2 separate regions of the Homo sapiens genome follow, and region 1 is linked to region 2. Evidence: fine-mapped expression QTL. A gene starts in region 2. The other region holds a variant in brackets. All regions are shown on one strand. Distances are between the middles of the regions. Region 1 has its middle 33 kb from the start of IL34. Region 2 holds the start of IL34 (interleukin 34).

Evidence for each region. PIP is the estimated chance that this variant, and not a neighbour inherited with it, causes the effect.
Region 1: its variant is fine-mapped to the expression of IL34 in whole blood (TOPMed, PIP 0.96).

What each region holds. Positions count from the first base shown.
Region 1 is chr16:70,609,924-70,618,165 of GRCh38, forward strand. It overlaps a transcript of IL34 not described here. Among named protein-coding and RNA genes, the nearest start is that of IL34, 33 kb to the right of the region's middle. The variant G/C (reference allele first, on the strand shown) is at 3,146.
Region 2 is chr16:70,642,100-70,650,501 of GRCh38, forward strand. IL34 (interleukin 34) reads left to right here and starts at 4,460. Exons shown (of 6, transcript NM_001393494.1): 1 at 4,460-4,876. The coding sequence starts at 4,849. RefSeq lists an enhancer at 7,692-8,192.

The sequences.
Region 1 (8,242 bases), 32 kb before region 2:
CTGGACGTGGTGGCTCATGCCTGTAATCCCAGCACTTTGGGAGGCCAAGGCAGGTGGATCACCTGAGGTCTGGAGTTTGAGACCAGCCTGGCCAACACGGCGAAACCGTCTCTACTAAAAATACAAAAATTAGCCAGGTGTGGTGGCGGGCGCCTGTAATCCCAGCCACTCTGGAGGCTGAGGCAGGAGAATCACTTGAACCTGGGAGGTGGAGGTTGCAGTGAGCCAAGATTGCGCCACTCCACTCCAGCCTGGGCGAAAGAGCGAGACTCTATCTCAGAAAAAAAAAAAAAAAAGTGAACGTTTTTCCAAGGTAGGAGCTGAGAGAGGGATCTGGGAGAGGAGGGAGGAATCAAAGGGCCAAGAAAACTCTTGGTGGATTCTCTCCTTCATCCCCATCCTAGTCTTGTGCCTGTTTTCCTCCAGCGTCTGGGAGTGCCGAGTGTTCAGTTGACCCAGTTCTCCTTCTCTGCTGGAATTTTGGCATCTGGCCCATGTGTCCAGTTCATTCACTCAGCTATGATTTGCCAGAAGTTATAGAGTTTCCTATGTGTCAAGCAGGTGCCAGGCCCTGAGGACACAATGATGACACCAGAACCAGGCTCTGTCCCCAGACCCTGTGGTCATTCCTGTGGGGAGAACGACACACAACACACAACTGAATGCAGTTAGGATAATGTCGAGTGGCCAGTGCTGTGTGGAAAGTGCCGCAGAGGGAGTGACAGGGGTGGCCTGGTGGCCAGAGAAGGCATCTCTACGGAGGTGATGTTTGAGCTGACAAGAAGAAACCAGCTGGGGAGAAATCTCTTGTGGAATATTCCAGGAAGAGATAAGGCAAAGTCCTCAGGGAGTAGCCGTCGGTGCGGGACAGTGGGTGAAGCTAGGGTGAGGAGGAAGGAGGGGCCCCCTCAAGCCTGCCGGGAAGCCACGGAGAGCAGTTAGGGTTGATTCTGAGGGCAGATTCCAAGATTCTTCTGGAAATGAAAAAACTGCTTGCGTTCTTTCCCCCCCTTCCATCCTTTGTGATTTTGGGGGCTTCTTCTTTCTTTCTTCTTTTTGTTGTTGTTTGAGACAGGGTCTTGCTCTGTGGCCCAGGCCGGAGCACAGTGGCCTGGCACAATCTCAGCTCACTGCAACCTCCATGTCCCTGGTTCAGGCAGTCCTCCCGCCTCAGCCTCCTGAGTAGCCGAGACTACAGGTGCGCACCACCACGCCTGTCTAATTTTTCTGTTTTTAGTAGAGATGGGTTTCTCCATGTTGCCCAGGCTGGTCTCGAACTCCTGTGCTCAGGGGCTTTGTATTTTGAAACACATGTGAGAGGCTCTTGGAACTGGAAGGAAGGGTTGGTGCCCCCAGATTGCCTGAACTCGCTCTTGTATCCACTTCCTAGTTGCTGTGAAGGGGGAGGGGCTGCCAGGTACGGCAGATTTGTGTCCTTCTCCCCGCCACCTTGCTGGAGATACCTGGGAGTTTATACCATTCTACACCTGCAGGGGGGCCACTGACTGAATTAGGGGTGCAAAAGCCTGACCTCTTTGCCTCAAATAGAACAACACTGTGGTGCTATTTAAAAACAGCCTTCGGGCTGGGTGCAGTGGCTCACACCTGTAATCCCAGCTCTTTGGGAGGCTGAGGCAGGTGGATCGCTTGAGCTCAGGGGTTTGAGACTAGCCTGGGGCAACATGGTAAGACCCCATATCTACACAAAATTTAAAAAAGTTACCAGCCTGACCAACATGGTGAAACCCCGTTTCTACTAAAAATACAAAAATTAGCTGGGCATGGTGGCAGGCACCTGTAATCCCAGCTACTCCGGAGGCTGAGACAGGAGAATCGCTGGAACCCAAGAGGCAGAGGTTGCAGTGAGCCGAGATCACACCACTGCACTGCAGCCTGGGTGACAGAGCAAGACTCTGTCTTAAATAAATAAATAAATAAATAAATAGCTGGATGTGGTGACAAACACCTGTGGTCCCAGCTCTTCGGGAGGAGCAGGAGGATTGCTTGAGATTGGAGGATTGCCTGAGCCCAGGAGGTCAAGGATGCAGTGAGCCATGATTGCACCTCTGCACTCCAGCCTGGGCAATACAGTGAGACCCTGTGTAAAAATAAAAGATAGCCTTCTGTCTTGAGGTTCCCTCCCTTCATTAATCATGTGAAGCCCAAAGCCTGTCTCAGGCTCTGCTTCCAGGAGAGCCAGCCTCCAACAGGCCGATAGGGGCTGTGTGTTCTGTAGTCTAGAAATCGGGGTTCTGGGATCATGGAACCAGCTGACCCCTGGGGGCTTTTCCTTCCAGCTTTAAGAGTCTCTAAAGCTGTGTGATTTCCTCAAGTCACATAGCAAGTTATTGGCAGAGCCAGGCCCACAAACTACTCACAGCCTGAAAGCACTGGGGGCTGGGGGCTGGGGGCTAGGGGGATCTGCTGGTGAATGGTGAGTATGGTGCAGAGGCCAAGGCCCAAGCTGGAATACGGTGCAGAGGCCAAGGCCCAAGCTGTGGTTCATCCAAGGCTGTGCTCCCAGATGAAGCTCTGGATCTCAGGTAAGGCCCACTCTGCCGTAATTACTCCAGAGACTTTAGTTTCCTGAATTCTGCTCCCTTTACCTCTGTATTAGAATGATTCACACTAAAGTGTGAAAGATTGTCAGCTCAGAACCCTCCCAGAAGCAATGCATCCTGAAAAGAAAGTGCTTGTTAACCCACATCAATCTCTAATTGAAGGGACTTTTTGACAGGTATAAAGTGAGTTGGAAAAACGCACACAGTGTAAATCTGGAGCCTTTGGGGCTCAGGAGGGATTCCTCAGCTTCCCCAAGATCAGCTTCCCCACCCCCATTTCTGCTTCTCCCAATTAGAACACATGTTTTTTGTTTGTTTTGAGACAGAGTCTCACTCTATTGCCCAGGGTGGAGTCCAGTGGTACAATCTCAACTCACTGCAACCTCTGCCTCCCCGGTTAAAGCGATTCTCCTGCCTCAGCCTCCCAAGTAGCTGGGATCACCACGCCCAGCTAATTTTTATATGTTTAGTAGAGGCGGGGCTTCACTGTGTTGGCCAGGCTGGTCTCGAACTCCTGACCTCAAATGATCTGCCTGCCTTGGCCTCCCAAAGTGCTGGGATTACAGGCCTGAGCCACTGTGCCC[G/C]GCCTCAGACCACATCTGTTGAGAAATGCATGTCGTCTTCTTCAGGTTCCCACAGCAGGGCCGGTCGAAGGGGTGTCACTGGAAGTGAAGGTGACGCAACTGAAAAAATAATTTTGTGAGAAGTGTATTTTTGCAGAGGCTGGTGGTTTGAACTAATCTCCCTGGTAAGTGGTTTATTTCTCCGGAGAGTGAAGGACTGTGCATGATTTAGTAAATTTCCATGCCATGTTCTGAAGGGCTGGCATCCCTTCTTGGCTCAGGCAGGCTTGTAGCGTAGACTGGGGACATGGGGTTGGAGCGGGGCGGTTTCCTGAGGCATGGCGGCCACACTGGATGGGGCCTCACCTGGTCTCCACCCTTACTGTACAAGTGCCCTTGGCAAGTCACTTACCTTTTCCAAGGCGCAGTTTCCTCATCTGTGAAACAACTGGAGTTGGCTATTCCGGAACCTTGGTACTCAAAGTGTGGTCTGCAGACCAGTGGTATCTGCAGCACCTGGGAGCTTGTCAGAAATGCAGAGTCCAGCCAGGAGTGGTGGCTCACACCTGTAATCCCAACACTTTGGGAGGCTGCGGTGGGTGGATCACCAGAGGTCAGGAGCTCAAAACCAGCCTGGCCAGCACAGTGAAACCCTATCTCTACTAAAAATACAAAAATTAGCCAGGCATGGTGGCGTGCACCTGTAGTCCCAGCTACTTGGGAAGCTGAGGCAGGAGGATTGCTTGATCCTGGGAGGTGGAGGTTGCAGTGAGCTGAGGTTGCGCCACTGTACTCCAGCCTGGGTGACAGAGTGAGACTCTGTCTCAGGAAAAAAAAAAAGAAAGAAATGCAGAGTCCAGCCAGGCACGGTGGCTCACCCCTGTAATCCCAGTGCTCTGGGAGGCTGAGGCAGGAGGATTGCTTGAGGCCAGGAGTTTGAGACCAGCCTGGGCAATACAACAAGGCTTTGTCTCTTAAAAAAAAAAATTATCCAGGCGTGGTGGTGCACGCCTGTAGCCCCAGCTACTCAGGAGGCTGAGGTGGGAGGACTGCTTGAACCCAGGAGTCTGAGGCTGTTGTGAGCTGTGATCATGCCCCTGCACTCCAGCCTGGGCAATGGAGCAAAACCCTGTCTCAAAAAAAAAAAAAAAGAAGTGCAGTATCCCAGGCCCTACCCCAGACTTTCTGAGTGAGTCTATATTTTAACAAGATTCCAGGTAATGTGTCTGTATGGCACAGTTTGAGGAACCCTTCTTTGGAGCAGACTCCTCAAATGTGGTCCTTGCACCACCCCATCAGTGTCATCCGAGAGACAAAGCATGCTGGAAATGCAAGTTCATGGGCCCCTGACCTACTGAATTGTATGTCTGAGGGAGGGGCCTGGAGCCTGTGTTTTTTAACAGCCTCTCCAGGTGGTTCTTAAGCCCGCTGAGGTTTGAGAAGCATGGAAGCTCAGATTCAACAGTGATGGGAGCCGAGGTTTAGCTGTGGTGCAGCTGCTGAACACGGAACCTGTTTTGTTTTTGTGCTGCTTTCAGAAATGTGCACACACTTGCCTTTCACAGCAATTTCATGATGTTGTTTGTCCTTATCTTTGCTCTGCCTAAGAGATAACTGGGTTTTAAGGGAAGTTATGTGAATTGCCTACACTCTTTGTGTCTCACAGTGTCTTGCAATAGCAATATTCACATAAAGCATTTCTGGCAAGTGTCAGTGAGCTGTTACAGGTGATAAAACTTCTTGTAAATATTTGTTCCTTGATTATAAATGACAGAGGCTCTGTTGGAACAGGAGCTGGGGTAGATCTTGTAGGTCTTGCCCAAGGCTCAGGAGCTGATGAACTGCAACTCCTCTGTTTTACTGCTTAGTATTTTGATTAGAGAATAAACTCATACGGTTTCAACATCATGTAAAATAGAACTATAGCAAAGAGTTTTCTTCCTGCTCCTGTCCCATAACCGGCCTCACCGGGTAACTGTTTATATTTTATTGGGTCTAATCTAATTAGAGCTGATCCTCAGGAAAACAGAAACTCCTGATCTATGGCTCCCCTGTTACCCCCCAAATCTCTGGACTTACGGTGTATGCATTTTTGCAACTTATTTTACTACCCTGACAAAAAGTCCATCGAATTCTAGACTTATTTGGGTTAACAAACATCTTCTTTTAAAGATACACTGGCCAGGTGTGGTGGCTCACGCCTGTAATCCCAGCACTTTGGGAGGCCGAGGTGGGTGGATCAAGAGGTCAAGAGATCGAAACCATTCTGGCTAACATGGTGAAACCCCGTCTCTACTAAAAGTACAAAAATTAGCTGGGCGTGGTGGTGCTCACCTGTAGTCCCAGCTACTCAGGAGGTTGAGGCAGGAGAATTGCTTGAACCTGGGAGGTGGAGGTTGCAGTAAGCCGAGATTGCGCCACTGCACTCCAGCCTGGCAACAGAGCAAGACTCCGTCTCAAAATAAATAAATAAATAAATAAATAAAATAAAGATACACTGTCTCTGAAAGGTGTCTGAGTTGCCAATCTTTCACGCTTTAGTGTGAATTATTCTAATATGTTCACTTTATGCAAATGCAAGCATATACAAATATATAGATATAGATATAGGTAGATGAAAGTGCCAGGCGCAGTGGCACGTGCCTGTAATCTCAGCACTTTGGGAGTCTGAGGTGGGGCAAATCACTTGAGCTTAGGAGTTTGAAACCAGCCTGGGCAACACAGTGAAATCCCATCTCTACCAAAAATACAAAAAATTAGCTGAGTGTGGTGGTGCACACCCGTGGTCTCAGCTACTCGGAAGACTGAGGTGGGAGGATCTCTTGAGCCCAGGCAGTGGAGGTTGTGGCAAGCTGAGATGGCACCACTGCACTCCAGCGTGGGTGACAGATTGAGATCCTGTCTCAATAAAAAAATCCGTCCCCCCTCAAACTCCTTCCACAGATATTTATAGATAAAAGCTTTGCCACCTCTGCTGAACACAGCTTCCAACATAGAAAACACACCATTCAGTGTCTTGCTTGTTTTACTGAATCTATCATGCTATACTACTGTGTGGTGAACATGCAGGTTATACCATCTGCTATCACAGACGCTGATGAGATGAAAAATCTCATACACGTGGCCTGTTGCAGGTGCATACTGTATATGCAGGATAAATTCCCAGAAACGGCATTGCTAAGTATCTGCATTTGTGATTTGAGAGATATTGCCAATTTCCACTCCATAAGGTTAATACCAATTTGCACTTCCATCAGCTTTGGATGAAAAATTAGTTTGCCCGCATCATTGCCAACACATTAAATTGGATTTATATCATTGGATTTTTACCAATCTGATAGGTGAAAAACAGTGACTCAATGTAGTCTTAATTTAAATTTGTTATGAAAAAATTTTAATTTATAATGTGTTTAAGGCCTATGTATTTTTCTATGACCGTCTTACTCATATTGTTTTGCTTATTTTATTTATTTATTTTTTTGTGAGCAACATGTCTGTTTATTTCACCTGGGTGCAGGCGGGCTGAGTCCGAAAAGAGAGTCAGCAAAGCGTGCTGGATTATCATTAGTTCTTATAGGTTTTGGGATAGGCGGTGAAGTTAAGAGCAATGTTTTGCGGGCAGGGGTGGATCTCACACAGTACATTCTCAAGGGTGGGGAGAATTACAAACAACCTGCTTAAGGGTGGGGGAGATTACAAAGTACATTGATCAGTTAGGTGGGGCAGGAACAAATCACAATGGTGGAATGTCATCAGTTAAGGCTATTTTTACTTCTTTTGTGGATCTTCAGTTACTTCAGGCCATCTGGATGTATACGTGCAAGTCACAGGGGATGCGATGGCTTGGCTTGGGCTCAGAGGCCTGACATTCCTGCCGCCTTATATTAATAAGAAAAATCAAAATAGTGTTGAAGTCCTGGGGCGGCGAAAATTTTTGGGGGGTGGTATGGAGAGAGAGTGGGCGATGTTTCTCAGGGTTGCTTCAAGCAGGATTAGGGGTGGCGTGGGAACCTAGAGTGGGAGAGATTAAGCTGAAGGAAGATTTTGTGGTAAGGGGTGATATTGTGGGGTTGTTAGAAGAAACATTTGTTGTGTAGAATTATTGGTGATGGCCTGGATATGATTTTGTATGAATTGAAAAACTAAATGGAATAAGAGAAGGAGAAAAACCGGTATAAAAGGTCTAAGAATTGGGAAGACCTAGGACATCTGATTAGAGAGTGCCTAAGGAGATTCAGTATAGTCCTGCCAGCAAAGATTATTTATTTACTTCAAGAGTTAAGAGTGGCAGTTTGGGGATAGCACGAGGAGATATCAGCTGTGATGGCTTGGAGAAACTGTGTAAACCGGCAGTGTAAACAAGAGCAGGGCATGTATGAGTAGTTGAGAACGGAGAATAGGAGTATGACTAGACAGAAGATAGTAGGGATGACAAGTTTTTTTGGGGCACAGTCTAAGTTGGTCTGGTGTCTGGAATGAGACTGGGGCCTAATAAAAAGGAGCGTCTATACAGGAGCTTAAATGGGCTGTACCCCCTGTAGCATTCCGAAGACAGGCCTGAATTCTGAGAAGGGAAAGTGGTAAAAGTATTGTCCAGTCCTTTTTAAGTTGGTGGCTGAGCTTGGTGAGGTGTGTTTTTAAAAGACCTTTAGTCCATTCTACTTTTCTTGAAGACGGAGGACCGTAAGGGATATAAAGGTTTCACTGAATACTAAGAGCCTGAAAAACTGCTTGGCTGATTTGACTAATAAAGGCTCGTCTGTTATCAGACTGTATAGAGGTGGGAAGGCTAAACTGAGGAATTATGTCTGACAGAAGGGAAGAAATGACTGCGGTGGCCTTCTCAGACCCTGTAGGAAAGGCCTCTACCTATCCAGTGAAAGTATCTACCTAGACTAAGAGGTATTTTAGTTATCTGACTCAGGGCATGTTGAGTAAAGCTAATTTGCCAGTCCTGGGTGGGGCAAATCCTCCAGCTTGATGTGTAGAGAAGGGAGGGGGCCTGAATAATCCCTGAGGAGTAGTAGAATAGCAGATGGAACACTGAGAAGTTATTTCCTTGAGGATAGATTTCCACAATGGAAAGGAAATGAGAGGTTCTAGGAGGCGGGCTAGTGG
Region 2 (8,402 bases):
ACCATTCTCTGGGCTGGAACTTTGAGATCAGGGCACCAGCATGATTGATTTCCGGTGAGGGCTCTTCCCTTGGGTTGCAGATGGCCACCTTCTCACTATGTACTCACATGACCAGTTCTTTGTGTGAGTATGGGAAGAGACAGAGAGAGAGAGAGACAAAGACAGAGACAGAGAGAGTGAGCGTACTCTGATGTCTTTTTTTTTTTTTTTTTTTTTGAGACGGAGTCTCACTCTGTTACCCAGGCTGGAGTGCAGTGGCATGATCTCGGCTCACTGCAAACTTTGCCCTCTGAGTTCAAGCGATTCTCCTGCCTCAGCCTCCTGAGTAGCTGGGATTACAGGCACCTGCCACTGCGCCCGCCTAATTTTTGTATTTTTAGTGGAGACGGTGTTTCACCATGTTGGTCAGGCTTGTCTTGAACTCCTTACCTTGTGATCCTCCCGCCTTGGGCTCCCAAAGTGCTGGGATTACAGGCGTGAGCCACTGAGCCCGGCCTGATTTCTTTTCTTATAAAGGCATTATCCCACCATAAGGACCCCATCCTTGTGACCTCATCCAAACCTAATTATCTCCCAAGGCCTCATCTCCAGGAACCACCACATTAGGGGTTACAACTTCAACACATGTATTTTGGAGAGACACAAACATTCAGTTCATAACATGCTACAAAATGAATGAACCCTGAAAACATGCTAAGTGAAAGAAGCCAGACATGAAAGGTCCCGTATTGCATAATCAATCCCATTTATATGAAATGTCCAGAATAGGCAAATCCATAGAGACAGAAAGAATATTAGTGGCTGCCAGGGGCTGGGAGGAAGAGGGAATAGGGGGTGACTGCTAATGAGTTCAGAGTTTATTTTGGGGGTGATGAAAATGTTCTGTAATTAAATAATGGTGACTGTTGCACAACTTAGTACACTAAAAACCCACAAAGTTGTACACTTTATTATTTATTTTTATTTATTTTTATTTATTTTTGAGACGGATCTCACTCTGTCACCCAGGCTGGAGTGCAGTGGGACTACCTCGGCTCACTGCAACCTCTGCCTCCCGGGTTCAAGTGATTCTCCTGCCTCAGCCTCCTGAGTAGCTGGGATTACAGGTGCGCACCACCGTGCCTGGCTAATCTTTTGTATGTTTAGTAGAGATAGGGTTTTGCCATATTGGCCAGGCTGGTCTCGAATCCCTGACCTCAGGTGATCCACCTGCCTTGGCCTCCCAAACTGCAGGGATGACAGGAGTGAGCCACTGCACCTGGCTGTTGCACACTTTATTTATTTATTTTGAGACAGGGTCTTGCTTTGTCACCCATGCTGGAGTGCAGTGGCGTGATCATGGTTCACTGCAGCCTTGACCTCCCTGGCTCAAGTGATCCTCCCATCTCAGCCTCCCAAGTAGCTGGGACCACAGGCCCGTGCCACTACACCCACCTAATTAAAAAAATTTTTGTTGGTAGATACGGGTTCTCACTATGTTGCCCGGGCTGGTCTCAAAGCCCTGGGCTGAAGCGATCCCCCGGCCTTGGCCTCCCAAGGTGCTGGGATTACAAGTGTGAGCCATCACACGCAGCCTGTACACTTTAAAATGGTAAATTTTATGGCATGCAAATTATATATTGATTTTTAAAAAGAAAAAAGACTTAAGATGCACATCAGAGATTTAAAAAATAACCAGGGAAAATTGAACGTGGATTCTATATGAAATCATATTAAAGAGTTATTAATTTGAGGGTTGTGTGATGACAATATTGTGATTATATATTTTAAAAATCCCTACATGCTGGTGAAATGGCATGTTTGAGATTTGCTTTAAAATATTCCTGGAAAAAAAAATTGGGGGATGAGTGAAGCTGGAATGACAGAAGAGTGATCATTTTTTTCTTTTGTTTTGAGACAGAATCTCGCTCTGTTGCCCCGACTGGAGGGCAGTGGAGCAATCTTGGCTCACTGCAACCTCCGCCTCCTGGGTTCCAGTGATTCTGCTGCCTCAGCCTCCTGAGTAGCTGGGATTACAGGCATGCACCACCACACCTGGCTAATTTTTGTATTTTTAGTAGAGACAGGGTTTCACCATGTTGGCCAGGCTGGTCTCAAAGTCCTGACCTTTTATGGACAACTCTGTGGAAATAACTTTTTTGTTTTTCTATTGGTATTTGAAGTTGTTTTTTCCCCTTCTCCTTGGAGTTTATTCTGCCTCAACTGATTCACCCGCCTCGGCCTCCCAAAGTGCTGGGATTACAGGTGTGAGACACTGCACCCAGCCAGATTGACAATTTTTGAATCTGAGTAACTGCTATATGGGGGTCTGTTATACTATTCTACCTTGTTTCAGTTTGTTTAGACAACTTCCACTATAAAGGAATGAATTTTTTGGGTAGATGGAAATGTTTTGTATCTTGATTATTATAGTAATTACACAGCTCTATAAATGTGCTAAAAACTTTTAGAAATGTATACTGAAAAGGGTAAAATGTAGTATATGTAAATTAGCCCTCAATAAACCTGAAAAAAATCCCCAAACTAATGACAACTAAATGTTCTAGATACGTTAGTGTTTGTAGTGATGCTGTAACAGCAGGGGAATTGCCAGGGTGAGGAGGAGGAGGAGGGGGAGGAGGAGGGGGAGGGGGAAGAGGAAGAGGAGGAGGGAGGAGGGAGGAAAAGGAGGAGGGAGGAGGGAGGAAAAGGAGGAGGGAGGAGGAATGAAAAGGAGGAAGGGAGGAGGAAGGAGGAAGAGGAAGGAGGGAAGAGGAGGAAGAGGAGGAAGTAGGAAGAGGAAGGAGGTGGAAGAGGAAGGAGGAAGAGGAGGGAGGAGAAGGAGGAGGAAGGAGGAAGAGGAGGAAGGAGGAAGAGGAGGAGGAAGGAGGAAGAGAAAGGGAGTAGGAGGAAGGAGGAAGAAGAGGAAGAGGAGGAAGGAGGAGAAGGAAAAAGGAAGGAGGACGAGGAAGGAGGAAGAGAAGGAAGGAGAAAGGAAGAGGGAAGAGTAGGAAGGAGGAGGGGGAAAGAGGAGGAAGAAGAGGGAGGAAGGAGGAAGACGAGGAAGGAGGAGGAGGAAGAGAAGGAGGAAGAGGAAGGAGGAAAAGGAGGAAGGACAAGGAAAAGAGGAGCAGCAGCAGGCAGCGACTGGGGCTGAGATTCAGGGTGACTGCATAAGGGATTAACTTGAACAACCCGTGTTCTCTCTATAAGGCCCTGCCTGCCTGCTGGGCACCTCTTAGGGTAAGGGCCAGCATTCTTTGGTGACACCATGGATCACACAATGAAGAAGATGCCCAAGTCATACCTGCTCTCCCCCGATGGTGTCACTCTGTAGCCATTTTCCCCCACCAGAGGGGAGACAGGGAGGAGGCGAGGGGATGGAAGAGAACTAAATCAGAGACGGAATTCCAGCCTGATCTGCAGAGCAGACACAATGGTCCAGACCTTGCAGAGTCCAGAGGGGCAGATGGGAGGACCACGCACACACGCTGAGCCCTGTGTGGTTGTCGAATTTTGGGAGCAGCCACCAGCCCACAGGGTTTGAATTCCTGTCACACTTCTTACAAGCCGTATGACCTTGGACAAGTGTCTTAACCTTTCTGGGCCTCAGTTTCCTCATTGATAAACTGAGATTTTGCACTTCCATGAGATTGTTGTGAGAGATTCAGTGAATGTAAAGACCTTAGTCCTGGCCGGGTGCGGTGGCTCACGCCTGTAATCCCAGCACTTTGGGAGGCCAAGACAGCAGATCACTTGAGTCCAGGAGTTTGAGACTAGCCTGGCCAACATGGTGAAACCCCATCTCTACTAAAAATACAAAAATTAGCCAGGCATGGTAGTGCACATCTGTAATCCCAGCTACTTGGGAGGCTGAAGCAGGAGAATTGCTTGAACCCTGGAGGTGGAGGCTGCAGTGAGCCAAAATCACGCCACTGCACTACAGCCTGGATGACAGAGTCTGAGACTCCGTCTCAAAAAAATTTTTTTTTTCTTAATTTTTTTTTTATTAATAGAACTGAGGTCTTACTATGCTGACCAGGCTGGTCTCGAACTCCTGGGCTCACGCAATCCTCCCACCTTGGCCTCCCAAAGTGCTGGGATTACAAGCATGAGCCATTGCGTCCGGCTTGTTTTCGGAGTGGGAGCTCGTCTGCTTTTTTAACCTGTCCTTTAGCCTGAGTCATTCATGGACTCTACCATGGCTCTCGATGTGTGAACTCAAACCACCTGTTCATTCCTTGGTCCTGCTTTTGTTCAGGCCCCAGGCTGCCAGCTGGTGTCATCATAACTCACTCATGGGCCAGGGCCGTTCGGACATCCTGAAGTCATTTCTCACGTGAGCCGTGTCCAGCTGCCAGGGCCGGGTGGTCCTGTGCAGGCCGTGGGTGCGGTGTGCGCTGTGGCTGATGGCTGAGTGGCAGCGCTGCTCTTACATAATCAGTTTCTCTCCTCCTTTCTCTTCCTAGAGCCAGATTTCACACTGAGCAGCTGCAGTCGGAGAAATCAGAGAAAGCGTCACCCAGCCCCAGATTCCGAGGGGCCTGCCAGGGACTCTCTCCTCCTGCTCCTTGGAAAGGAAGACCCCGAAAGACCCCCAAGCCACCGGCTCAGACCTGCTTCTGGGCTGCCATGGGACTTGCGGCCACCGCCCCCCGGCTGTCCTCCACGCTGCCGGGCAGATAAGGGCAGCTGCTGCCCTTGGGGCACCTGCTCACTCCCGCAGCCCAGCCACTCCTCCAGGGCCAGCCCTTCCCTGACTGAGTGACCACCTCTGCTGCCCCGAGGCCATGTAGGCCGTGCTTAGGCCTCTGTGGACACACTGCTGGGGACGGCGCCTGAGCTCTCAGGGGGACGAGGAACACCACCATGCCCCGGGGCTTCACCTGGCTGCGCTGTGAGTACTGGGGGGTCCCTAGGGACCTGCATTGGGAGGCCTTGGCCTAGATCCAGGATCTGCCGTAACCATAGCAACCAGGGCATTCTTGCTGGTGAGAAGTTGCGATGCTTCCCAGCCGGACTGCAGACACCCTCTGAGATTCCCACGGCCGCCGTCTGCCCTGTCTGCCGCTCACTTCGGGCTCCGACGGGCAAGCTGGGTGGGCAGTTCTGGCTGGGTGGGCATGGTCCTCAGGGTGGTCTTAGGTCGGGGCAGGCACTGGGGGTAGGTGGCAGCATCTCACCTTTCCAGGCTTGTGGGTGTTGGGGAGCCCCGGGCGGGCAGCAGCGGCCCAGTCCTGGGTATGGCCGGTGGAGGGGGGCAGGGGCTGGTGAAAGTGTCTAGGGACCCAAGACCCACGGCAGAAGAGCAGCCAGATGCCTGGAGAAGGCAGCCTGTTCCCCTCCAACCCTCCCTCCATAACAGAACAGAATTAAAAAGCAGAAAGATAACACTGTTGGTAAAAAGAAAAATAAGTTGAAATGAGGACAGAAAGGAAAAAAAGGATCTGGAAGCCTCTTATGCCTGCTGGCTGGGAGGCCAGACCAAGATCCCCTCAGTCTCCAAGATCCAGTTCAATTGACTCAAATTCAACACATTTTTCCGGTGCCTCCCACGTGCCCACTGCAGAGTCACTGCCATGACAACAAGGACCTTGCTGTCTCGTGCCTCTGTCTCCAACGCCTGGCACAGGGTTGAGTGCTCAGGAACTGTTGGAGGTTTGGGGTATGAGCCTGCGAGGGATTGAAAGAAGAGTTGGGTCCACCCTGGCCCTTGTGGAAATATACAACAAAGGGTTGGGACATTAAGGATGGGTGGAAGGACCCAGCTGGACCCAATGTTCTGGAAACCCCTAGGTCATGAGAAGCAGGGGTGCAGCATGGGGGAGGGGCTACTGGAAATGGTCTAGAAGGTGGGGTGGTGGTCACACAGGTAGACCTGGGGTCATGAGGCCCATGTTCCAGGAAGAGGGGCCAGTGTGAGCAAAGGTTTGGCGGTGGGATGGTGAGGCCAGGCTGGGAGCTGGTTTGGACCCGGCTGGCTGAGGCCTTGAGAGCCAAGCAAAGTGTGCCTCCCTCCCCATAGCAGGCAGCCCTGGAGGATTTGAGAGCCCGGCGGGGGTGGAATCGTGATTGGGAGTTCCTCTGCTCTTGAAGATCAGTCTGGTGGTGTTTGTAGGAGTTACTGCTGTCACCGTCTGTGCAGGAGGGAATGAGGGTCATTCTGGAGGTGGAGGTGCGAATGAAAGGCAAGGGATGCTGGGCTGGTGGCTCACGCCCGTGATCCCAGCACTGTGGGAGGCCAAGGCAGGAGGACGGCTTGAGGCCAGGAGTTTGAAACCAGGCTGGGCAGCATAGCGAGACTCCATCTCTAAAAAAAGGAAAATTAGCCAGGTGTGGTGGCATACATCTGTAATCCCAGCTACTCAGGAGGCTGAGGTGGGAGGATCACTTGAGCCCAGGAGGTTGAGGCTGCAGTAGCAAGGATCGCATCACTGCACTGCAGCCTGGGCAACAGGGTGAGACCCTGTCTTTAAAAAAAAAAAAAAAAAAAAAAAGGAGAAAAGAAAAAGAGAGAAAGAAAAGCAAGGGAGAGGGGAAAAAGCTCCAGGAGGGGTGGGTCTTAGGACCAGGCAAAGACTGGCTGGGGGATGAGGGAGAGGGAGAGCAGCAGATTGAGGTGGGGGCTGGTGCCCAGGGGCTGGGGTGCTGAGGAAGTTGGGCTGCCATAACCAATTAGAAAGCTTCGGGTGGCTTAGAGCAACAGGAATGTGTCGTCTCACAGTTCTGGAGACCGGAAGTGTGAGATCAGGGTGCCTGCAGGGCTGCGTTCCCTCTAAAGGTGCCGAGAAGGAGCCTCCCTTGCCTCTTCCAGCTCCTGGTGGCTCCTGGCTTCCTTGGCTTGTGGCCTAGTCACTCAGATCTCCCTTTGTCTTTGCGTGGCCTTTCCCTTTGTGTGTCTCTATGTCCTCTCCTCTTCTTCCTAGGACACTAGTCACTGGATTTAGGGAACTGCCTAAATCCAGGATGGCCTAATCTTGACATCCTTCATTTAATAATGCCTGTAAGTGGCACAGGACAGGCGAGCCCCCAAGGGGGCTTAGCCTGCGAGGGTTCTTGGCTTTCCCTAGGAGAGAATTCAAGGCAAGCTGGTGGTAGAAGAAAACAGCTTTACTGAAGAGATGTTATAGCTCTGTGCCAGCTCCTGCAGAGCAGGGCTGTGCCAGAGGAAGCGTACTGAGGAGCAGCTCGGGGCCTTTTGCAGTCATATTTATACCCACCTTTAATTGCATGCAGATTAAGGGGCAGTTTATGCAGACATTTCTAGGGAAGGGGTAGTAACTTTTGGGACATTGGGTCATTGCTATGGAAAGCGGTGGTAACTCCCAGGCGTTGCCATGGCAATGGTAAACTGACATGGCACACTGCTGAGCATGTCTTTTGGAATGCTGCTTCTGCCCCGTCCACCCCTGTTTTCACTAGTCCTCAGTTTGGTCCAGTGTCAGGGCTCTGCCTCTGGAGTCGGTCCTACCTCCTACTTCACAAAGACCCCATTTCCAAACAAGGTCACACTCGGGTTCGGGTGAATGTGGATTTGGAGGAGATGCTATTTAACCCACTGCACAGGTTCAGATTTGGTCCCCGGGGCTGGGGGTGACAAGCCTCACTTGTCACTGCACATAGGGTCAACCCAGGGCCAGGGAACCAGGAAGGGAGTACCGTACTCACACAGATCTTTCTTAAGCCTCCTCTCTGTCTTGCAGGTTGTTTTATTATTTTATTTTTATTTTTATTTTTTGAGACGGAGTCTCACTCTGTCACCCAGGCTGGAGTGCTGCGGCACGATCTCAGCTCACTGCATCCTCTGCCTCTTGGGTTCAGATGATTCTTGTGTCTCAGCCTCCCGAGTAGCTGGGACTACAGGCACCTGCCACTGCGCCTGGCTAATTTTTGTATTTTTAGTAGCGATGGGGTTTCACCATGTTGGCCAGACTGGTCTTGAACTCCTGACCTCAGGTGATCCGCCCACCTCGGCCTTCCAAAGTGCTGGGATTACAGGTGTGAGCCTCCGTGCCCAGCCTGTGTTGTGGGTTCTTACCTCTGGGCTAAGACAAGGGCAGGGTGGGTCTCCTGACCAAGGTCAGGGGTGGCACTGGCTGTGGGGTTCCTGGTGTGCAGAGCATGTGGGGGACAGTGGCCTTGAGGTTGGGGCTGTGCTGTCCCTGCCTGGTCCCTGTTTGTTAACCTGTTTCTCTGGGTGGGTGGAGGCAGCAAAAAAAGAAACTTGCCCTTAGCAATGATGTTTGGGCTGCACTCAGAGGAAGGCTGCCCAGTTGGGGGAGAGGCAGATCATCTGTGGACAGGGTTTCCAGGGCAGCTGTGTGCCCACCGTGTCAGGCTGGGAGGCTCAGTGTCACTCCAAGGCACAGTCCCTGCCTTGAGGCCACAGCTGCCGGGTCCCCAGGGCCCCAGAACGGGACACA